Linked DNA regions of Homo sapiens: region 1 is linked to region 2. Evidence: fine-mapped expression QTL. A gene starts in region 2. The other region holds a variant in brackets. All regions are shown on one strand. Distances are between the middles of the regions. Region 1 overlaps FOXR1 (forkhead box R1). Region 2 holds the start of RPS25 (ribosomal protein S25).

Evidence for each region. PIP is the estimated chance that this variant, and not a neighbour inherited with it, causes the effect.
Region 1: its variant is the best candidate, but not a certain one, in a credible set for the expression of RPS25 in regulatory T cells (Schmiedel 2018, PIP 0.75).

The regions. Positions count from the first base shown.
Region 1 is chr11:118,974,099-118,989,880 of GRCh38, reverse strand. It overlaps FOXR1 (forkhead box R1), which reads right to left. Exons shown (of 6, transcript NM_181721.3): 2 at 11,025-11,099; 3 at 10,677-10,924; 4 at 10,213-10,439; 5 at 9,153-9,391; 6 at 8,594-8,673. The coding sequence ends at 8,645. Among named protein-coding and RNA genes, the nearest start is that of FOXR1, 10 kb to the right of the region's middle. RefSeq lists enhancers at 8,704-9,221, 9,222-9,740. The variant T/AAAT (reference allele first, on the strand shown) is at 7,172.
Region 2 is chr11:119,014,642-119,023,091 of GRCh38, reverse strand. It overlaps RPS25 (ribosomal protein S25), which reads left to right and starts at 4,749. Exons shown (of 5, transcript NM_001028.3): 1 at 4,749-4,810; 2 at 5,039-5,134; 3 at 5,547-5,730; 4 at 7,153-7,251; 5 at 7,334-7,375. The coding sequence starts at 4,808. The coding sequence ends at 7,247. CENATAC (centrosomal AT-AC splicing factor) reads right to left here. Exons shown (of 11, transcript NM_198489.3): 9 at 8,009-8,098; 10 at 7,653-7,785; 11 at 7,299-7,554. The coding sequence ends at 7,494. TRAPPC4 (trafficking protein particle complex subunit 4) reads right to left here and starts at 4,326. Exons shown (of 5, transcript NM_016146.6): 1 at 4,122-4,326; 2 at 3,775-3,949; 3 at 2,839-2,942; 4 at 1,206-1,332. The coding sequence starts at 4,296. RefSeq lists enhancers at 3,755-4,453, 4,708-4,937, 4,958-5,027 and a silencer at 4,348-4,467.

The DNA of each region.
Region 1 (15,782 bases), 37 kb after region 2:
CGGGTCTCGAACTCTCGAACTCAAGTGATCCACCCGCCTCGGCCTCCCAAAGTGCTGGGATTGCAGGCGTGAGTCACCGTGCCTGGCCTTGTGGATATCTTTCTATGTCAGTACATAGAACTTGATATTAAGTGCTATCTATATACTGATGACTCTCAGTGTATTTACATTTTCAGCTCAGACTTCTCTTCTGAACTCTAGACTTATAAATATCTACTTGACATTGACATAACCACCCTGATGTCTCACAGATTCCTTTTTTTTTTTTTTTTGAGATGGAGTTTTGCTCTTGTTGCCTAGGCTGGAGTGCAATGGCGTGAGCTCAGCTCACCACAACCTCCGCCTCCTGGGTTCAAGCTCAAGCAATTCTCCTGCCTCAGCCTCCCAAGTAGCTGGGATTACAGGCATGTGCCACCACACCCAGCTAATTTTGTATTTTTTTTTTTTTTTTTAGTAGAGACGGGGTTTCTCCGTGTTGATCAGGCTGGTCTCGAACTCCCCACCTCAGGTGATCCACCCACCTCGGCCTCCCAAAGTGCTAGGATTACAGGCGTGAGCCACTGTGCCCGGCCCCACCCCCCCGCTTTTTTTTTTGAGATGGAGTCTTGCTCTGTCACCCAGGCTGGAGTGCAGCTGTGTGATCTCAGCTCAGGGCAACTTCTGCCTCCTGGGTTCACGCAATTCTCTTGTCTCAGTCTCCTGTGTAGCTGGGATTACAGGCGCGTGCCACCACGTCTGGCTATTTTTTTTTTTCTTTTTCTTTTTTTGAGACAGTGTCTAGCTCTGTCACCCAGGCTGGAGTGCAGTGGCGCGATCTCGGCTCACTGCAACCTCTGCCTCCTGGGTTCAAACGATTCTCCTGCCTCAGCCTCCCAAGTATCTGGGATTACAGGCGCCCGCCACCACGCCCAGCTAATTTTTGTATTTTTAGTAGAGACAGGGTTTCACCCTGTTGGCCAGTCTGGTCTCAAACTCCTGACCTCATGATCCGCCTGCCTCAGCCTCCCAAAGTGCTGGGATTACAAGCGTGAGCCACCGTACCTGGCTAATTTTTGCATTTTTAGTAGAGACGGGGTTTCACCATGTTGGCCAGGCTGGTCTCAAACTCCTGAACTCAGTGATCCTCCCACCTCAGCCTCCCAAAGTGCTGGGATTATAGGTGTGAGCCACCGCCCCTGGCCTCACAGATTCCTTTTTTTTTTTTTTTAATTGGAGACAGGATCTTGCTCTGTCACTACTCAGGCTGGAGTGCAGTGGCACAATTATGACTCACTGCAGGCTTGATCCCCCTGGGCTCAAGCAATCCTCCCACCTCAGCCTCCCAAGTAGCTGGGACCACAGGCACACGCCACCACGCCCAGCTTATTTATTTTTTGTAGAGAGGAGGTCTCACCAGGTTGCCCAGGCTGGTTTCCAACTCCTGGGCTCAAGTGATCCACCCACCTCTGCCTCCCCAAGTACTGGGATTACAGGTGTGAGCCATCGTGCCCGGACTTGTCTCACAGATACTAAACACAGAACGCTCAAACCTGCTACTCCTGCAGGCTTCCTCTCCTCACCATTCACCTACTTGCTCAAACCAAAAACCTCAGAGTCATTCTTGCCTTTTCCTTCTTTTTTTTTTTTTTTGAGACAGAGTCCCGCTCTGTCACCCAGGCTGGAGTGCAGTGGCGCGATCTGGGCTCACTGCAGGCTCCACCTCCCAGGTTCATGCCATTCTCCTGCCTCAGCCTCCAGAGTAGCTGGGAATACAGGCGTCTGCCACCACACCGGCTAATTTTTTGTATTTTTAGTAGAGATGGGGTTTCACTGTGTTAGCCAGGATGGTCTCGATCTCCTGACCTCGTGATCCGGCTGCCTCAGCCTCCCAAAGTGCTAGGATTACAGGCGTGAGCCACCACGCCCGGCCATTCTTGCCTTTTCTTCTCCTGCAGTCACTACTATTGACTTGTTTTTTCGACCTCCACGATGCATCATCAAATTGTTCTTCTCCCTGTCTCCATCTCTACTGCCACTACTCCTCCAACCGGCCTGATTTACCGCAGTCACCTCCTAATGGGTGTTCCTGCTTCCATGTTGGCTTCTCCCCACAACAAGCCACTTTCAATGAATGGCTAATTGTGATTAACAACGACAACAACAAACAGTTATGTAAGTTACTTCAATTACTTTCCACCATACTGGAAAAAAATCCAAATGCCCTGTCATAGCCTAGGAAAGCCTACCCTGCCCCTCTCCCAGTTTTACCTTGGATCTTTCTGCCCTTGTTTAGTGTATTCTCTCTTCCATGGTCTTATCCCGTTTGCTCAAAAGGCCAAGGTATGTCTCTACCTCCAGGGCTTTGTCCATTCTAATGCCTCTATTAGAATGCTTTTCCTCCGGCCTGGGGCGGTGGCTTATGCTTGTAATCCCAACACTTTGGGAAGCCAAGGCAGGGAGATCACGAGGTCAGGAGTTCAAGACCAGCCTGGCCAACATGGTAAAACCCTGTCTCTACTAAAGGTACAAAAAGTTAGCCGGGTGTGGTGGTGTGCCCCTGTAATCCCAGCTACTCGGGAGGCTGAGGCAGGAGAAGCTTGAACCCGGGAGGCAGAGGTTGCAGTGGGCCAAGATTGTGCCATTGCACTCCAGCCTGGGTGACGGCACAAGACTCTGTCTCAAAAAAAAAAAAAAAAAGTAAAGGAATGCTTTTCCTTTCTGTTCTTCAGCCTGGCTAACTTCTCCTCATGCTACAGGTCTCAGTTAAAATGTCACTTTCTTAGAAAGGTCCTCTCTGATCTCCCCTCCAATCTAAATTAGATGCCAATATTGCTTTCTCTCAAAATAACTCCATCTTTTTTTTTTTTTTTTTTTTTGAGAAGGAGTCTCACTCTGTTGCCCAGGCTGGAGTGTAATGGCATGATCTCTTCTCACTGCAACCTCCGCCTCTCAGGTTCAAGTGATTCTCCCGCCTCAGCCTCCCGAGTAGCTGGGATTATAAGCACCCACCATCATGTCCAGCTAATTTTTGTATTTTTGTAGAGACAGGGTTTCACCATGTTGGCCAGGCTTGGTCTTGAACTCCTGACCTCAGGCGATCTTGCTTTGGCCTCCCAAAGTGCTGGGATTACAGGCATGAGCCACCATGCTTGGCCAATAACCCAATCTTTACTCAATATTACCATTGTGCATTATTGCACATAATTAGTGTATTGGTTTAGTATCTTTACATCTAGACTGAAAACTGTGAGGAACCATTTGGGTTTCTTTGCTGTATCCCTAACACCTGGCAAGGGCCTGGTATAGTGAAAATGCGTAACAAATAATTGTTGAAGTCTAGGCACGGTGGCTCACACCTGTAATCCCAACACTTTGAGAGGCTGACGTGGGTGGATCACTTGACCTCAGGGAGGGTACAAGACCAGCCTGGGCAACATGGTGAAACCCCATCTCTACTAAAAATACAAAAATTAGCAGGACGTGATGGCACATGCCTGTGGTCCCAGCTACTCAGGAGACTGAGGCAGCAGAATTGCTTGAACCTGGGAGGTGGAGGTTGCAGTGAGCCGGGATTGCGATCCTGCCTAAAAAAAGAAAAATAACAAAATAATTGATAAGTGAAAACTAGGTGCAAGTATAGGAGTTGAGAGCAAAGTGGGCAAAGGCAGATTTTTTCTTAGTAAACGCTGTATTGTTTTGTACTTTCTTTCTGATCTGCTGCATTTTGGGATCCACTTGCAACTTAAACCTGATGTTGGCCAGGTGTGGTGGCTCACACCTGTAATCTAGTACTGTTGGAGGCCGAGGCGAGTGGATTGCCAGAGCTCAGGAGTTTGAGACCAGCCTGGGCCACATGATGAAACTTCGTCTTTAGTAAAATACAAAAATTAGCCAGATACGGTGGTGCACGCCTGCAGTCCCAGCTGCTTGGGAGGCTGAGGCAGGAGAATCGCTTGAACCTGGGAGGCGGAAGTTGCAATGGGATGAGATTGCTCCATTGCACTCCAGCCTGGGCAACAGGGTGAGACTCCATCTCAAAAAACAAAAACAAAGCAAAAAAATCCCTGATGTTAACAAGAATGTGCACAGCGATAAGGCTGTATACGAAGTGCAGATGATGGGGACAAATTGAGGCCAAATCAGATGAAAGCAGAGCTTGGGACTCAGGACCCCTCCTTCCTGGGAGCTGAATAGACTCGGGTGGCAGGAAAGAGGCTCTGGCTGCCGGATAGCTCTGGGTGGGCCCAGAGCAAATGACCTGACCTGGTCCCCCTCACCCACTCCTGCAGTGGCTATCACTTAGAAATCAGCATCCAGGCTGGGTGCGGTGGCCACGCCTGCAATCCCAGCGCTTTAGGAGGCCGAGGCAGGTGGATCACCTGAGGTCAGGAGTTTGAGACCAGCCTGAACAATACGGTGAAACCCCATCTCTACTAAAAATACAAAAAATTAGCCGATGTGGTGGCGGGCGTCTGTAATCCCAGCTACTCGGGAGGCTGAGGCAGGAGAACTGCTTGAACCCAGGAGGTGGAGGATTGCTTGAGTCCAGGAGTTCAAGGCTGCACATGAACTGTGATTGTGCCACTGAAGGGCCCTATCTCAAAGACAAAACGAAAAATAAATAAAAATTTAAATGAGGAGGCGGGAGCTACATCAGATTGGAGTTACCAGCAAGGAAAGCAGGGAGGAAAAATGAAAAAGTGAGACTACCTCAACCCTGGTCAGTTGCAGAGACCTGGGAGCCCTCTGGACAAGGGAGCCACTCTCTCAAGAGTGAAGCACCACCCACTGCCACTTCAAGACAGGAGTTATGCCCAGCCCAGGTGGGCAGTGGTGGCCTTGAAGGCAGAGCTTTGTTTCTGTGCAGGCCTGTTGGGCAGGAGGGAAGAGCGGAGAGGGAGTGAGATCTGGCATCGTCTCTAAGCACTGAGTGTCTGTGGGATCCCTAAACAGCCCTGAACCTCACTCATTCCTTCCTTGTCCTCAGGCTTCTCCCTATTCCCCACAGATCTAAGGCTGCCAGCTGTCCCTGCCCTGAGGCTGTCCCCTGCAACCAGGGAGGCCACAGCCCCCCAGCTGGGACCTGCAGCCTCAAGGACTCTTATTCCACAAGTAGCTTTTCCTGAGGGTGTGCTGGAGACAAACAGCATGGCGAAGGGTAATGAAACTCAGGCCCTATTTTTCTTTTGAGACGAAGTCTCCCTCTGTCACTCAGGCTGGAGTGCAGTGGCGTGATCTCTGCTCACTGCAACCTCCACCTCCTGGGTTCAAGTGATCTTCCTGCCTCAGTCCCCGAGTAGCTGGGATTACAGGCTTGTGCCCCACGCCTGGCTAATGTATTTTTAGTAGAGACGGGGTTTCACCACGTTGACCAGGCTGGTCTCCAACTCATGACCTCAGGTGATCCGCCTGCCTTGGCATCCCAAAGTGCCAGGATGACAGGCATGAACCACTGTGCCCGGCCTGAGAGAGGAAGATTTTTCTACAGAAGTATTTCAGCTAATAAGCTAAGAAAATAGAAAATTAGGGCCAGGCACAGTGGCTTACACCTGTCATCCCAGCACTTTGGGAGCCCAGGAGTTTAAGACCAGCCTTGGCAACATAGGGAGACCTCATCTCTAAAAGAAATAAAAATTTTAAAAAGTTAGAAAATTAGGAATATGATTCCTAATACATTTTTAAAAATTTTGGATGTGATTTTTTTTTTTTTTGAGACGGAGTCTTGCTCTGTCGCCCAGGCTGGAGTGCAGTGGCACGATCTCAGCTCACTGTAAGCTCCGCCTCTCAGGTTCATGCCATTCTCCTGCCTCAGCCTCCCAAGCAGCTGGGACTACAGGCGCCCGCCACCACGCCCAGCTAATTTTCTATATTTTTAGTAGAGACAGGGTTTTACCGTGTTAGCCAGGATGGTCTCGATCTCCTGACCTTGTGATCCGCCCACCTCGGCCTCCCAAAGTGCTGGGATTACAGGCTTGAGCCACTGCGCCCGGCCTGGATGTGATGATTGTATCATGTTCAGTCTTTTTAGAGAAAAGAAATGATGTCTAGAAATTGATTCAAAATAATCCAGGGAGGCCAAGGCAGGTGGATCACTTGAGGTCAGGAGTTCAAGACCAGCTTGGGCAACATGGTGAAACCCTCTATTAAAAATACAGAAATTAGCTGGGCGTGGTGGCGCTCACCTGTAATTCCAACTACATGGTAGGCTGAGGCAGGAGAATTGCTTGAACCCGGGAGGCGGAGGTTGCAGTGAGCCGAGATAGTGCCACTGCATTCCAGTCTGGGTGACAGAGTGAGACTCCGTCTCAAACACACACACACACACACACACACACACACACACACACACACACACACACACACAATAATTCCAGGAAAGGGGAATGAATGTGTTAATAACATTGCCTGTGGGGAGATGAAGCTGGATGACAGATATGTAGGGTTCATTAGACCGACTTTGTATGTGTTTGAAATCTTCAGTCAACAAAATATCAGTTGGCTAGTGCCTGTAATCCCAGCACTTTGGGAGGCTGAGGCAGGCGGATCACAACGTCAGGGCGATCGAGACCAACCTGGCCAACATGGTGAAACCCCGTATCTACTAAAAATAGAAAAATTAGTGGGGCCTGGTGGCCATGTGCCTGTAATCCGAGCTACTTGCTAGGCTGAGACAGGAGAATCGCTTGAACCCGGTAGGCGGAGGTTGCAGTGAGCCGAGATCGTGCCACTGCACTCCAGCCTGGGCAACAGAGCACGACTCCCATCTCAAAAAAAAAAAAAAAATCAAACCAAACCAGGTGGATTGCTTGAGCCCAGCAGTTCAAGACCAACCTGGGAAAGAGTGAGACTCCATCTCTACAAAAAATTTAAAAAATTAGCCGGGTGTGGCCGGGTGAGATGGCTCACACCTGTAATGCCAGCACTTTGGGAGATAGAGGCACGTGGATCACCTGAGGTCGGAAGTTTGAGACCAGCTTGACCAACATGGAGAAACCCCATCTCTACTAAAAATACAAAATTAGCTGGGTGTGGTGGTGCATGCCTGTAATCCCAGCTACCTGGGAGGCTGCAGCAGGAGAATGGCTTGAACCCAGGAGGTAGAGGTTGCAGTGAGCAGAGATCGTGCCATTGCATTCCAGCCTGGGCAACAAGAGCAAAACTCCGTCTCAAAAAAAAAAAAAAAAAAAAAAAA[T/AAAT]TAGCCTGGTGTGGTGGTACGCACCTGTAGTCCCAGCTCCTTGGGAGGCTGAGGTGGGAGAATTGCCCGAGCCCAAGGAGTTCGAGGCTATAGTCAGCTCACACCTTTAATCCAGCACTTTGGGAGGCTGAGCAATTGGACATCTACAAGCCAGAAATGAACCTTGACCATACAGAAATTAACTCAAGAGGCCAGGTGTGGTGGCTTACGCCTGTAATCCCAGCACTTTGGGAGGCCAAGGCGGGTGGATCACCTGAAGTCAGGAGTTGGAAACCAGCCTGGCCAAGATGGCAAAACCCTGTCTCTACTAAAAATACAAAAATTAACTGGGCCTGGTGGTGCATGCCTGTAATCCCAGCTACTAGGGAAGCTGAGGCAGGAAGATCGCTTGAACCTGGGAGGCGGAGGTTGCAGTGAGCCAAGATTGTGCCACTGCACTCCAGCCTGGGCAACAGGGTGAGACTCCGTCTCAAAAAAAAAAAGTCACCTGCTGGGTGTGGTGGCTCACACCTGTAATCCCAGCACTTTGGGAGGCCAAGGCAGGTGGATCACCTGAGGTCGAAAATTCGAGATCAGCCTGACCAACATGGAGAAACCCCGTCTCTACTAAAAAATACACAAAATTAGCTGGGCTTTGTGGTGCATGCCTGTAATCCCAGCCACTTGGGAGGCTGAGGCAGGAGAATCGCTTAAACCCAGGAGGTGAAGGTTGCGGTAGGCCGAGATTGCACCATTGCATTCCAGCCTGGGCAGCAAGAGTGAAACTGTCACACACACACAAAAAAGTCATCTGTAAGCTTTAAAAACAAAACAAAACAAAACAAAACATGGCGCCTCCCCAAAGCACCTTTCTATGCTCCCTTAGCAAATGCCCTCAACGCTATTGCAGCTAAGAGAATGCAGCGCAGTTCTCCCTGGCACCTGTATTCTATCCTGAGCTTGGTACACAGTAGCCACTTAAGGAGTATCAATTGAATGAATGTGTGGTGCTTACAGAATTGGCTGCTACAAACGGGCATCTCCCAGAATAATTTTTACAGATGGAGTCTTGCTGTTGCCCAGGCTAAAGTGCAGTGGTGTGATCATGGCCGACTGCAGCCTTGACCTCCTGTGCTCAAGGGATCCTCCTGCCTCAGCCTCCCAAAGTGCTGGATTACAGGTGTGAGCCACTGCATCCAGCCAAGATTATCTTCATAATCCAGAAAAATGGAAATTGCTCCAAGATGCTTTAGAAGGCTGTGCATTTTCCTCCTTTGAGGAAAGAAAATTACGGACTCCCTTTGCTGCACGGCAGGCACCTGCCCCATTGCCTCAGGAGCATCTGTAAGCTGAAGGCATTCCATCTCCAACCTTGGAGTTGATCTCCACCTCCACCCTTAACCCCATCCTTAGAGACCCCACCTCCACAGACACACACAGAAGGCTAGTGAGGGTAATTTTAATAAAGCATTAGCTGGCTGTTGCTTCTTGGGGTTAAAGATCAAAGAGGAAGGGCATCACATCTGTAAGAAAAGGAGAGAGTTCAGGAGTTTATACTTCACAATTGCTGTTTCCTAGGCCTGGGATGCTCTCTCATAGCAGGTCATCTGCTTCTTTCACTCAAGGCTCAAATGCTGCCTCTTCTCTGAAGCCTCCCTGCACTGCTCCAGGGAAAGTAGAAGTACTCTTTGTACATAACCTCTATTAACTGTGCTTCTCATGTTGTGTGCTCACTATTGCCTAGACTGCTGGTCTTGGTAAGGCCAGTTGCCCCTTAGTTGTTTGCCCATGGATTCCTGGCACATCACGCCCCACACTGGTGGGGGAGGTCTCACCTCAGGCAGGCATCACCTGAGGGTCTCAGATCACTGTTAATCTCCCTGTTTCCTATAGAAGATGCATTCCCCCACCCCCACGGTGTGACCCAGGCTTCCACACTTGGCCTTGGGTCAGGATCCTCAGGTCTCTTCCCCTTGGGCCCACGCACAACAAGTCTTCACACCTGGCTGGCTCATGCACTGTTGGATACTTTCTAGCCGAGTGGAAGCCAAGGCGCGGGCCTCCTCCGCAAAGCGGCGGTGTCCCTCCTCGGTCAACTTCCAGAGGCAAGATCGAGGCCGTGTGCTGGCCCCGCCCTGCATGCTGACAGGCACTTTCTCAAAGCTGTCTCGAAAACAGAGATTGTGACGGACAGTATTCTTCCAGCCTTCCGGGGCCGTCCGGAAAAAGGGGAAGTGCTTTCTATGGACAGGGAGGAGAGGTAAGGAAAGGCATGTTATGTCTGGGGAATGCCCTTCTCTGGGGCATGTTCTACCCAGGGGCCAGGGGCTTTAGCCCTTCTCTCCAGGGGGATAGTAGCAAGTTGGCCTGGAGTTGCTCTTTGCTAACTGAGCACGTGGCAAAGCATCCACGTGGTGCGTGGCTCACCTGAACCCTCCCTCCCTCTGAGGGCCCAGGGCTTGGACCACAGCATGAACAAAGCAGAATCAGGCCAAGCAGCTCCTGTAAGAGGAATCTTGGTTGAGGACGGACACCACTTGAAAATTCCTGTCCTGAGACATTAGGCACTTCTCCTAACACTGGGAAAGGGCCCAAGAAACTCCCTTCCTCACCCTCCTGTGAGCAGGACTATCTGAGCTAAATGGAAAATCCTTCTCAACTGGGTTCTCTGCACCCCTGGGGGTGCAGGGAGCTGTGCCAGGCAGTCCAGTCCTAGCAGAAGCAGGTGGGAACCGTTGGGGAAACCTGACTTTAGACTGGCTGATCTTCAGAGGATGGTGGGGAAACTGTTACCTGACCCAAGTGAATGTATGTTTTAAAGGAGAACTATACCCAAAGAACACTGAAAACTTGTTAAAAAGAAAAAAAAAACTAAAGCCATAAAATGTGGGCACAATGTGGGCACAAATGCACCTGGGAAAAGGGAACTGGGAACATACTTGTCCTCTCAGACCCAGATAGGGAAACCAGGTCAGCAACCCAGGGCCTGGGATGGATTGGAAGGCATCAGCCCGGGGCCCTGGCCCCCACTTCCCCCTCCTCGCAGGGCCCCCGGCACATACCGAGTGAAACTGTAGATCTGTTGCACGTTGAGGCCACAGGGGGAACTGTTTCTTAATGCCAGGGCAATTAGGTGGAAGTAATTGAGAGGGGGCCGGGACCAGAGCCTCCCCGCCTGGCTGCTGGCTTGCCGAAGCCTCCGACTCTGGAGGGGGGCCCTTTTGTGAGGGGATGGGAGAGCCATAGAGGAGCTGTCTTCCTGGTCCTCAGCCTCCTCCTCTTCTGTGAGCTAGAGGAGCACAGAGTAGGAACTGGTCCTGACTCCTCAGCCTCTACTCCAGGGTGCAGTGGCAGGAAGGGGGGGTGGTCTAAGGCCACCATTTGGGCTTCTCCCCAACCCAAGCATGTAGGTAATTTCTGAACCCATTCACCTTTTGCTATGGCTAAGAGAGCAGAACTGTAATGGCTCTTCCCCATGCCCCTCGCCTACTGCCCAAGTCCCACTCCCATCCCCAAAAATGCATACCTCCCAGGTGCTGGGGGAAAAGGCAAACCGCTTCCGAGGGGGAGACCGCTTGCTGGAGGACTGGGACAGTGATTCCACCCCTGCGGCCTCTGAGCAGCTGGCATCTTCCTCCTTCTGGGGTGGCTGAGAGGAGGGGAGTGTGCTTGTCAGGTCCTCCCTCTTCCTACGTCCTGAGACCTCCAGCTTTCCAGGGGGATACACAATGTTGGGATTTACCCACATCCAGAGGTTGGGCTCATAATCTGGACCTGTGCAGAACAAAAGATTGTGTGCCACAGCCCACTGGCTTTGGGTGCCCCTGGTCTCCAGCCCAGGCCACAGAAACAGGTCAGAGAACTCAATACGTACCATCCTTATCAGGGTTGGGTTTTTTCTCTAGGGGTAATTTTGGTGGCTTAACAATTCGGAGTTTATACCTGGCAACTGGCAAAAAGAAAGACAGAGAGAGTCAAAACATCCTAGAATATCCCTTTGTGACCCTAGGATCCTAGGCCTTAAGGCTTCTCTGGGAGAAGGTTGTGGGCCCTGCCTTGGGAGTTAACATCACATTCTACTTCTACGGGTTTTCCCTTTACCTCTCTGACCTTCTCATTCCCCTCTGCATTCTTTTCTTCTCACTCTACGTATACTATCCCTGAATGATCTCATGCATGTCCGTGGCTTCAGTTAACATCTATAAAAAAATGTAGAGCTCTCAAATCTTCACCTCTAGCCTAGCATTCTGTGCTAGCCCTTAAGGAGAACTACCTACTGGATGTCTTTACTTGGGTAGCCCACAGGCACTTCAAACGCACTTCTAAAACTGAATTCCATCTTCTTGCTCTTCCTCCTGTATTCTTGTATTTTTTTTGAGACAGGGTCTTGCTCTGTTGCACAGGCTGGAGTGCAGTGGTGTGCTCAAGAGATTCTCCCACCTCAGTCTCCCAGGTAGCTGGAACTACAGGTACATGCCACTGCACCCCACTAATTTTTGTATTTTTTTTTTTTCAGATGGAGTCTCGCTCTGTCGCCCAGGCTGGAGTGTAGTGGCGCGATCTTGGCTCACTGCAACCTCTGCCTCCCAGGTTCAAGTGATTCTCCTGCCTCAGCCTCCCAAGAAGCTGGGACTACAAGCGCACGCCACCACACCCGGCTAATTTTTGTATTTTTTAGTAGAGACGTGGTTTCACCATATTGGCCAGGCTGGTGTCGAACTCCTGACTCATGATCTGCCTGCCTCACCCTCCCAAAGTGCTGGGATTACAGGCTTGAGCCACCGCGCCCAGCCCAATTTTTGTATTTTTTGTATAGATGAGGGTCTATGTTGCCTGGGCTGGTCTCGAACCCCTGGGTTCAAGCAATCCTCCTGCTTCGGGCTCCCAAAGTGTTGGGATTACGGGCGTGAGCTACCATGCCTGGCCTTCCTGTATTCTTTGTCTTAGCAAGTGGCACCACCATTAATGGTTGTTCAGGACAAAAACTATTTTTGCCCCCTCACTGTCCCTATGAGTGTCATTATATTACAGATGAATCTAGGCTTTTGTTTGAGAAATGATATACTTATCGGAGAGCTCAGTAATTAGAGAGGATGCCTATTATGTTGCTAATATTCAACATAGTATTCAAAAAAGGAAAAAGTAGCAAAAGATAGAAAAATTGGGGTTTTTTTGGAGACAGGGTCTTGCTTGGTTGCCCATGCTGGAGTGCAGTGGTGTGACACCGGCTCACTGCAATCTCCACCTCCCAACTCAAGCAATCTTCCCATCTCAGCTCTTAAATAAAGAACTTAAAATACTTGAACAAAGACTTATAATACATACTATTAAGATGCCAGTTACCCTCAAAATGAATCTGTAAGTTTTATGCACATATTATAGCACAAAAATTAAAGTTTGGCCAGGTGCGGTGGCCCACACCTGTAATCCCAGCACTTTGGGAGGCCGAGGCAGGTGGATCACTTGAGGTCAGGAGTTTGAGACCAGCCTGGCCAACAAGGTGAAACCCCATCTCTACTAAAAGTACAAAAAATTAGCCGGGCTTGGTGGTGTGTACCTGTAGTCCCAGCTACTTGGGAGGCTGAGGCAGGAGAATCACTTGAACCTGGGAGGCAGAAGTTGCAGTGAGCTGAGATCGTGCCACTACACTCCAGCCTAGGTGACACAGCAAGACTCTGTCTCAAAAAAAAGTTCTAACATAGTAAAAATCACCATAAGCAAAAAACAAATAGACAAACAAACAAAATAGCAAAACTTCAATCCAAATTTCTCAGTTCTCTGATACATAGAGAGCTCCTACAAATCAATATGTAAAAGGTCAACACAAACTTAGAAATGGACAAATGATATGAATCAGCATTCACAAGGAGGGGATAACTGAATGGCTAACGAGATGATCAGCATTATTAATAATACGAAAAACACTGTAAGATAATGAGATAATCAAATTGACTGGAATTATAAAGATAATACCAAGTGTTGAGAAACATGCAAAGAGACAGAATCTCTTATTTTACTGCAGTTCTGTGTATCAACTGGAGCAGCCCTTGTTAAGAGCAATCAGGCAGGACCACAATTTACTCGACCTTACTGTCTGCTCCTGGATGTATATATTCAAGTTAATACAGGAACTTATATACTAATCAATCTCCATTGTTACTACCATCTACTGACCTCCTGGTTTAGCTGTCACTCTCCAACACTACTCCTGCCTTAAATCTTGGCTGCTGGCCAGGTGCAGCGGCTCATGCCTGTAATCCCAGCACTTTAAGAGGCTTAGGCAGGCGGATTGCTTGGGCCCAGGAGTTTGAAATCAGCCTGGGCAACATGGTGAAACCCCATCTCTATAAAAAATACAAAGATAATAATCTAGCCGAGTGTGGTGGCGTGAGCCTGTAGTCCCAGCTACTCAGGAGGCTGAAGTGGGAGGATGGCTTGAGCGGGAAAAGGGAGGTTGCAGTGAGCCAAGCTTACGCTATTGCACTCCAGCTTGGGCAACAAAGCCAGACCTTGCTTCAAAAACAAAAACATGATCTTTGCTATTTATTGAACTCTTCTCCAGCGAGTTTGACTTCTACTCTACTGTGGACACTCCCTCAGGCATAACCTAAACCAACAACTGCAACCTCTCCGTAACCTCATTTATGCACCACATAAAAACGCACCACCTCGTGTCTTTCTGGCTAACTCCCTCAACCCCAACTATGATCCCACTGAGGTCACCAGTCCACTGAATTATGGTTTTGGCGCACTCGTTTGGCAGAGGTGGATTTAGTCAGGGTTGTGGTTTGGCCAACAAAGTGCTCCAAAGCCACAGATGATCCAGGGAACCTGCGTAATATCTGACCATGGGATTCAAGTTAGTTAAATAAGGGTGGACATATCAAGTGATTGAAACAGTGAAAAGGTGATAGGATCAATGGACTGGTGATCTCATTGCGACCCAAGGATAGCACCTTTGTATGTCTGTGTCTCTCTTTGGCACAGATCCCCCATGCTTTTTCAAGGATGTTGTTCCACAAATCTTCCCCTCTCTTTCCTGTGTCACTAATTTTTTGTCTTTGTTGGGTCATTCTCATCAGCATGCAAACATGCTGTTAATTCTCCCATTTTAGGGACCAGGTGCAGTGGCTCATGCTTGTAATCTCAGCCTGCTTTGGAAAGCTGAGGCAGGAGGATCACTTGAGCCGAGGAGTTCAAGGCTGCTCAAGGCTGCTCAAGGCTGCTCAAGACTGCAGTGAGCTGTGCTGGTGCCACTGCAGTCCAGCCTGGGCACCAGATAGAGACCCTGTCTCTAAAAAAAAAAAAAAGAAGAAAGAAAAAGAAAAAGATTATCCCATCTTATTTCCTGTTGAGGCATAACACATTGCCTCTACTTCCCCTCCTTCTACTCTTAAACCCCCTTCAGTCAGGTTTTTTGTTCTACCACTTACTAAAACCACTAACCAGGGACCTCTGCTTTGTTAAGTCCAATCATCACTTACATTCCACTCATCCAACCCCTCCCTCCTTGAAAGGCTTTTTCCACTTGGTTTCCAGGATACCACAGACGCCCTAGTTTTGATTCTCAATAGTCTTTTTTGCTAGTTATCTCTCTTCTCTCCAATCTCTTTACAATGGACTGCCCCCAGGGCTCATTCTTGTTCCTCCTCTATTCTTACTCCTTAAGTTCCACCCATATACCAAAAGACCCAAAATTTACATCTGCAGTCCCCACTTCTCTCCAGAACTCCAGGCTCATGTATCCAACTGCAGACTCAATGCTTCTACTTGGATGTCTAAGGATCTCCAGCTCAGCATATCCAGAACAGAATTCCTGATCTTCCTTCCTAAACCTGTCTCCCACTCAGTACAAGGCAACTCTATCCTTCCACTAGGTCAAAACACTTTGAAGGCTCATACTCAATTGTCTGTCTTATACGCCATATCCAATCCATCAGCATAGCCAGCTGGTTCTCCCTGCTACTACCCTGGCCCAATCTACCATCATCTCTTGTCTGGATTACTACTGCAGCCTCCTAGACTCTGTACATCCACAGTCTACTCTCAACACAACAGCCAGAGTGATCTTTTCAAATCTAGATCATGCAGGACTAGCCACATAATTTGTAGGGTCCAGTAAAGAAAACATGAGGCTCCTCGTTGAAAAATTATTAAAAATTTCAAGACAGTGACAGCAGTGTATTAAACCAAACACAGGCACCTAGGCAACTGCACGGGTCACACACTCATGAAGCAGACCCTGAGAGCATGTCACTCCTCTGCTCAATTTGGGAGGTAGGAGGATTGCTCGAGTCCAGGAGTTCAAGACCAGCCTGGGCAACATAGGGAGATCCCCATCTCTACAAATAGTAAAAAAGTTAGCCAGTGTGGTGGCCTGTGCCTGTGGTTGCAGCTACTTTGGGGACTGAGGTGGGAGCATTGCTTGAGCCTGGAGGTAATTGTGCCACTGCACTCTAGCCTGAGCAAGAGCAAGAGTCCATCTCAAACAAAACCTTACAATCAATCCTCATCTGACTCAAAGTCAACCCTAAAGTCCTTAGAGGACAGGCATTCCTGCTCTCAACCACACCCTTTGGAGCTCTTTATTTACTGTCATCCAGCCTTACTGACCTTACCACTTTCCCTTCAA
Region 2 (8,450 bases):
TCCGGAGGCTGAGACAAAAGAATCGCCTGAACCCGGAAGGCAGAGGTTGTGGTGAGCCGTGATGGCACCATTGCATTCCAGCCTGGGTGGTTAAGAGTGAAGCTCAGTCTCAAAAAAAAAAAAAAAAAAAAAAACATCAACAAAAAAAACCCCACAAACAAACAAACAAAAATGACATAAACACCAAGGAAAGTCTGTTTTCTCTAAATAGTCACCCAGGCTGGAATCAGTGGCACGATCTCAGCTCACTGCAACCTTTTCCTCCCAGATTGAAGCGATTCTGCTTGCCTCAGCCTACTTGAGTAGCTGGGATTGCAGGTGCACACGACCACACCTGGCTAATTTTTGTATTTTCAGTATTTTTAGCAGAGATGGGGTTTCACCATGTTGACCAGGCTGGTCTTAAACTCCTGACCTCAAGTGATCCGCCCGCCTCAGCCTCCCAAAGTGCTGGGATTACAGGCGTGAGCCACTGCACCCAGCTACTGTTGTCTTATTTATTTAGAGACACGGTCTTGTTCTGTTGCCCAGGCTGGAATGCAGTGGCACGAGCATGGTTCACTGCTGCCTTGACCTTCCAGGTTTAAGCAATCCTCCCGCCTCAGCTTCCTTAATAGCTGGCACTACAGGTGTCCGCCACCACACCAGGCTAATTTTTTTTTTTTTTGTAAAGATGGGGTTCTATGTTGTCCAGGCTGATCTCAAACTCCTGGGCTGAAGTGATCCTACCCTCTCCGTCTTCCAAAGTGCTGAGATTACACACGTGAGCCACCGGCCTTTCCTTGTGTCTTACTTAAAAGTAATACTCGGCCGGGCGCAGTGGCTCACGCCTGTAATCCCAGCACTGTGGGAGGCCAAGGCAGGTGGATCACCTGAGGCCGGGAGTTTGAGACCAGCCTGACCAACATGGTGAAACCTTGTCTTTACTAGAAACATGAAATTAGCCAGGCGTGGTGGCACATGCATCCAATCCCAGCTACTCAGGAGGCTGAGCCAGGAGAATCGCTTGAACCCGGGAGGCAGAGGTTACAGCGAGCCAAGATCGCATCATTGCACTCCAGCCTGGGCAACAAGAGCGAAACTCCGTCTCAAAAACAAACAAACAAAAAAAGTAATACTCTACTATGCTTCAGCTAACTTTGGACAGAGCACACAGGGAGGGGCAAGGACGCTTTAAACAGTATCTGGGAAGTGGGGCCACTTACCTGATAGGCATTTCTAAGGAATAGAATGGATTCTTGAGGGCAAAGTCTGAGTAAATCTCATAAATCTTTCGGAGAAGAGAATCTATTCCAGCTTGCCTAGGATCTGCTAGAACCACAAACTTGATCCCTGGAGAGAGACCAAGAATGGTTACCAAAGCGTAGACACTGGAGCAAATAGTGTCATCCTGTATTTGTACAGCACTTTCAATTTTGCAAAACACTTTCATAAGCCTATTTTAATTTTATTCTTTTTACCACATAATGCAGGAAAGGCAAGACTTTGAATCTACCGATGAGACCAGAGAAGTGAAGTAACTTTGTTATGTCACCCACCTGATTAAGACCAGGCTTTGAGTTCTAGCTCTGCCACTTACTAACAGTTTTGGAGTCCCTCAGCAGAAACATTGCCAGGCAGGGGACAAAGTCAGGCAGTTTTCAATAAATGAAGAGGGTGAAGCAATGACACTGGCAATCCAAAGGTCATATCCATTTTGCTTTCAAATTTCATTTTGGAAAAACACTTAACACCTTCCAAAGTACACGCAACAGGAAATAGCATTAAGGTGAGTTTTATCTGAACACAAGATAACCTCTGCTGAACATGCTGGGTGGCATGGACAAAATCAGTTTCAGATTAAATATTGGTTTTGTATTCACAAAACAAACAAACAGATGTGTCTATAAAATTGTGCCAGGAAGGCCGGGCGCGGTGGCTCATGCCTGTAATCCCAGCACTGTGGGAGGCAGAGGCAGGTGGATCACCTGAGGTCAGGAGTTCGAGACCAGCCTGGCCAACATGGTGAAACCCCATCTCTCCTAAAAAATACAAAAATTAGCTGGGCGTGTGGCGGATGCCTGTAATCCCAGCTACTCAGGAGGCTGAGGCAGGAGAATTGCTTGAACCCGGGTAGTGGTGGCTGCAGTGAGCCAACATCGCGCCACTGCACTCTAGCCTGGGTGACAGAGCAAGACTCCATCTCAAAACAAGACAAAACAAAAAAACCCCACAAAAAATTAGCTGGGTGTGGTGGCGGGCATCTGTAGTCTCAGCTACTTGGGAGGCTGAGGCAGGAGAATTGCTTGAACCCAGGAGGTGGTGGCTGCAGTGAGCCAAGATCATGCCACTACACTCCAGCCTGAGTGGCAGAGTGAAACTGCATCTCAAAAAAAAAAAAAAAAAAAAGAACTGTGGGTCGGGTGTGGTGGCTCACGCCTGTAATCCCAACACTTTGGGAGGCGGGCAATCACCTGAGGTCGGGAGTTTGAGACCACCATGACCAATATGGAGAAACACCATCTCTAATAAAAACAGAAAAATTAGCCGGGTGTGGTGACACATGCCTGTAATCCCAGCTATTTGGGAGCCTGAGGCAGGAGAATCGCTTGAACCCAGGGGGCGGATCATGCCCCTGCATTCCAGCCTGGGCAACAAGAGTGAAACATTTCAAAAAAAAAAAGAATTGTGCCAGGAAAAGCACACCCCCTCTTCTTGCTTACCAAAGGTGTCTTTGGTCAACCCCCTCCTCCCACCTTCTCCACCACACTCCTCTGGCCCACCTGGAGATGCAAACTTATCAGTATCTCTTCCCCACCTTCTCCATCACACTCCTCTGGCCTCCGTGGAGATGCATACCTGTCAGTGTCTGGTAGCAGTGCAATTTGAATGTGTCTGTCTCCAGCATCTCAATGCCTGAGCTTCCCTGTTCAGGAGACAGCTGGGAGCCGATGGCAAAGAGCCTATATGCAAAGGAGGCAAAGTTGCTCTAAGGAAGGAGTGCTTCTCAAACTTCCACTGAAGTGTCCCTATTTGCTGAGGAGTTCACATTACAGCCTGGGACAGTCAGGAGAAGTAGTGTGAACTGACTGGCAGTAGTGTCAAAATTTCTAAGTTCATTTGAATTCTGTGAATATTTTACATTCATACTTTGTTACAAGACATTTTACATCTAAAACTTTGGGTAAAATGAATACTCTAGGAATATGTGCCACGCTTACTAAGCTTGTGTTTAAGCAAAGGCCGGCACATCTGATATCACAATTGAGAGCAGAAAAAGTTTAAAGGTCATTTAGTTAAACTGGCTTTCTTTAAATATGAAGAAACTAAGGCTCAGAGAAGAGAAGTTGACTTTAAGTAAGATGACACCTCGGCCGGGCGCGGTGGCTCACTCCTGTAATCCCAGCACTTTGGGAAGCCGAGGCAGGTGGATCACCTGAGGTCAGGAGTTTGAGACCAGCCTGGCCAACATGGCAAAACCCCTCTCTACTAAAAATACAAAAATTAGCTGGTCGTGGTGGCACGCGCCTGTAATCCCAGCTACTCGGGAGGCTGAGGCAGGAGAATCGCTTGAACCTGGGAGGCAGAGGCTGCAGTGAGCCGAGATCCCGCCACTGCGCTCCAGCCTGGGTAACTCCGCGGCCCCTCCCCACCCAGCAAAAAAAGATGACACCACTGCCGTTATTACCTAAAATCTAGATCTGGATCGGTTGCGTTTTTCATAACACCAGAACGACGATTTAAGAAAAGGTAGACAAATTACAAGCGCTGCCGTTCAGGAGACGGGGGACTTACGAGTGGAACATGGAGGCCAGCATAAGCTTCTCATTAGAAGTGAGGCGGGGCCGGCCAAATCGAATGGACACCGGGTAATTAGCAGGGTTACCCAGATACTCCAGCACCTCTTTCCCGTCGGCCGTGTACCTGCCATTCACGTCCATGCCATTGATGGCCAGCACTGCATGACCCACTGCAGAGGTGAAGCTAACGGTCAGCGAAGGTGCAGCCCGGGGATTCCGCCGAGGGGACAAGGGACCCGACACAACCCCTTTTCCCCCAACCCCGCACCTACAACCAGCCCACTTCTACAGCACTGGGGCCCTCCCACCCCCGCACCCGCCACGGGCCCGAGCCTAGCCCACCTCGGATGCCGTCCCGCTGGCCGAAAGCAACCAACACACGCTCATCGTGTAGCTTGAGCAGCAGATCCAGCGGATAACTGAAAGTTTTCTCAGCCTCAGCCCGTGGCGCGTAGCTGTCCAACTGGTAAATCAAGCCGCCAGCTTTGTTCACCACATACACACTAAAAATCGCCATCGCTGCCTTGCCGCTCGGAAACTGGTATTCAGCCTCTACCCGACGGCCCCTCCCCGGAACCGCATCACAGCACTTGCCGCCGGCCCCACCCCAGCCTCCTCCTCCTCCTCCTCCTCCTCCCGCGCCCCCCGTGCAGCCACCTGCTGCACTTGCGCACTGGGAGCGACACGCTCGGGCATAAGTAGTGCCGGAAAGTTAGCTGCCGAGACCTGGTGGATTGCTTTTCGTTTATCAGTGCAGGAAAACAGCGCTATAGTATGCGTCACAACTAGCGCAGACTCCGGCAGTATTTAGGCGGTGCGGCTTGGGAACTAGAATCCACTTCCTGTCTTCCGCCTCAGGCTAGAGGGCGAGCGCTTCGCCGTGGGACTTCTTCTGCCTGGCTCCGCCTTTTGCCCCGGAAGTACTCACAGCGGACGGTGGTTTTTGGGCCCGTTTCTGAGCAGCGCTTCCTTTTTGTCCGACATCTTGACGAGGCTGCGGTGTCTGCTGCTATTCTCCGAGCTTCGCAATGGTAAGCTTCAGGGGTGTGAAGTCGCCGGCGTTCTTGGGTTTGAGGACTCAGTGGGGAGAGCCTTCGGCGGGAGCGCTCCTTGGCCTGCCGGCCTCGGTTGCAGGGCGGGCGCGGTTATTGCTTGGCCCATGTGCTCTGGTGGTGGAGTTTGCGGGGGCTGAGGGCGCAGTATTAGGGGACTTTGGCGCTATTTGAGGACCTGGTTGCATTCCCGCTGCCCTCCTACAGCCGCCTAAGGACGACAAGAAGAAGAAGGACGCTGGAAAGTCGGCCAAGAAAGACAAAGACCCAGTGAACAAATCCGGGGGCAAGGCCAAAAAGAAGGTAGAAATAAGACCTCTCTGAAAGAGACTAGGGGTAACTCTCTCGTAATCCTCTAGTAATAGGTAACTTGTATAGTAAGTGGTTTTTCAGGTGTAGATTTCTAGAGTCAAAATGTGAGAGTTTATCTTCCCGTCACCACTCGTTCTTTTTCCCATTAGGATCATGAAAATGGGTCTGTTGTGCGAAGTGTCTGCCGCTGTGCCTGCTGTGTTATTTTTAACTGATCTAGTGGGGCTCGGCCCCTGTTTGAAGGCCAAAAACGTGTCGGTGTTTTTTTTTTGTTTTTGTTTTAGTAATGTGTAATTTATCCTTGATAACGGTGGAACAGATTTCTCTGACGCAGATTACTCGAGAGGGAAAGGGTGCTTCTGCCAGAAATACTAACTTGTTTCTGTTTTGTTTTGGTGAGCAGAAGTGGTCCAAAGGCAAAGTTCGGGACAAGCTCAATAACTTAGTCTTGTTTGACAAAGCTACCTATGATAAACTCTGTAAGGAAGTTCCCAACTATAAACTTATAACCCCAGCTGTGGTCTCTGAGAGACTGAAGATTCGAGGCTCCCTGGCCAGGGCAGCCCTTCAGGAGCTCCTTAGTAAAGGTGAGGGGTGTATCCTACATGTGTGTTTTTGTAGGTTAAATTGTCTTGACCATGTTAAGCATCTTCAGTGGTTTTGCTGGAAAAGCAGAATTAAAAAAAAAAAGCGTGGCTTGACCATTGGCTGTTAGTAATGTAATTCTGACGTCTTACTCCTGATCCTGAGATGAATTCTCAGGGTTCTTAGCCACTTTTGTGCCGTGGACCCTGTGGCAGTTTAGTGAAGCCCAAGGATCTTTTATGTTTCGAGTAAATGGATGCATAGAATTACAGGGACAACCGTTTTTGAAATAATTAGATTACTATTTTGAAACAACTTTGAAAATGTTTAAAACCTTTATGGTAAATATTTTGTTGATGTATTAAATTTTAAAACCAGAAATTTAGTACGGTCTACTCAGTAGTATGGTCTGATTACCATAATTCCACAATAATAAGGCTCAGCTAACTATAGTGACTGAACGTCTATAATTCTAGCACTTTGGGAGGCCAAGGCGGGTGAATCAACGGAGGTCAGGAGTTAAAGACCAGCCTGGCCAATATGGTGAAAACCTGCTCTACTGAAAGTTAGCTGGACGTGGGGGCACACGTCTGTAATCCCAGCTACTCAGGATGCTGAGGCATGAGGATCCCTTGAACCCAGGAGATGGAGGTGGCAGTGAGCCGAGATGACACCACTGCACTCCAGCCTTAGTGACAGCAAAAGACTGTCTCAGAAAGGGGGGGGGGGTGGAAGATAATGGAGCCCTAATTTAAAGGAAAAGTAAGGATAGATGATCGTTAAAAACTAGGATTCTCGGTTACCGAACGTCAGATTAAGCAATTCTGGAGCCAGGTGCAGTGGTACCCTTGTATTTCTAGCTACTTGGGAGGCCAAAGCAGGAGGATCATTTGAGCCAAGGAGTTTTAAGACCATTCTGGGCACCTCTGAGAGAACTCTGTCTTTTTGTTTTCCTTTTCTTTAAATAGAGATGCGGTTTTGCCATGTTGCCCAGGCTGGTCTCCTGGGCTCAAGAGATCCACCTGTCCAAAGTGCTGGGATTACAGGCATGAGCCTCTGCACCCGGCCAAAACAAACCTTACTAGAGTCTCATTCTGTTGCCCAGGTTGGAGTGCGGAGGGGCAGTCTTGGCTCAATGCAACCACCAATTCCTGGGTTCAGGTGGTCCTCACCTCAGCTTCCCAAGTAGCTGGAATTACAAGCATGTGCCACCATGCCCAGCTAATTTTTGTATTTTTGGTAGAGATGGGGTTTCACCTTGTTGGCCAGGCTGGTGTGCAACTCCTTACCTCAAGCTATCTGCCCGTCTCCACCTCCCAAAGCAGTGGGATTATAAGCATGAGCCACCGCGCCCAGCCAAAAACCTTACTAGTTTCTATTGTAGCATCTGTTAAGCATCTCATCGTGCTATTCTCTCCCCCTAGGACTTATCAAACTGGTTTCAAAGCACAGAGCTCAAGTAATTTACACCAGAAATACCAAGGGTGGAGATGCTCCAGCTGCTGGTGAAGATGCATGAATAGGTGAGTAGGAATGTGTGGGCTCATGGTGTAGGAGGTAGATACAAAGCTTTATGGTTCTGATTCTTTTAATTTTTTTTTACAGGTCCAACCAGCTGTACATTTGGAAAAATAAAACTTTATTAAATCAAATGAATGAGTATGTCTGTTTCCTAAGAAAGACAATGATAAAGAATTTGGTGGAAGGTATAATAGGGGTTTGTTGACTTTGCTTTTAGCCTCATGGTAGTTGGTAGAGAGCATGATTAGCTTTTTTCTGTATGTGACTGCTTCTTCATTGCTGCAGCTTCAGTTTTGAATTGATGTCTGAAAGGAAATAAAGGGTTAACACGATGATGAAGGGTGACATCTCCAAAAAGGAGGTTGGATGGGTAGGTTGGAGACCCGGCACTGAACACACATACCTGGACTGCCAGCGGCGTCCATTATTCCAGACGCGGCCAAAAGAGGGCAGCCAGCCTGCACTGGTCCTGGAGCTGTGATCAAAGTTGGCCCCAACTCGGTCTGGGGGGAGTTTTTTCAACTTCTGTTTTTCCTCTGTACAATGATAGGGAAACTTTTATTTTTCTTTATTGAAGAATATAGAGATGGGGTCTCACTATGTTGTCCAGGCTGTTTTCAAACTTCTGGGCTCAAGTGACCCTCCCACCTCAGCCTCCCAAAATGCTAGGATTATAGCCATGAGCCACCACACACAGGCAAGGAAACCATTTTTGAGTGTGAAGATTTAGACGATCCTCTCTTGAATTAGTTTACTTACTTTCTTTAAGAAATTCTTCATAGGATGGTCCTATTTCTTGGTTCCCAGCAATGTATTCTTCATCTTGGATCATCCAGGGAGGTGTGGCACCTGAAAAAAAAATTAAGGCTTTTTTTTTTTTTTTTAAGTCTTCAGGCTATTGTGAAACATGTCCTAGCTGTTAGCTTACCTCTCCTCATTAAGAGCTAGAAATGTCTAAAAGCAAAGCCCAGGAATTCTGGAGCTTTAGAAGGCCCTAGGCTAATTTAAAGCGACATACCCCATATGTGACAGTCATTTTAAAATGGCTTTGAGGCACAACTGACATAAACGATACACACTTAAATTTGGTGACTTTTGAGCGAAGCCATTACAATCTAGACCCCAAACATCCCCCTGTAAGTATCACTGCCCCCATTAAAATATTTTCATGTCCAGGCAATCGGTGATCTTTCAGTTGCTT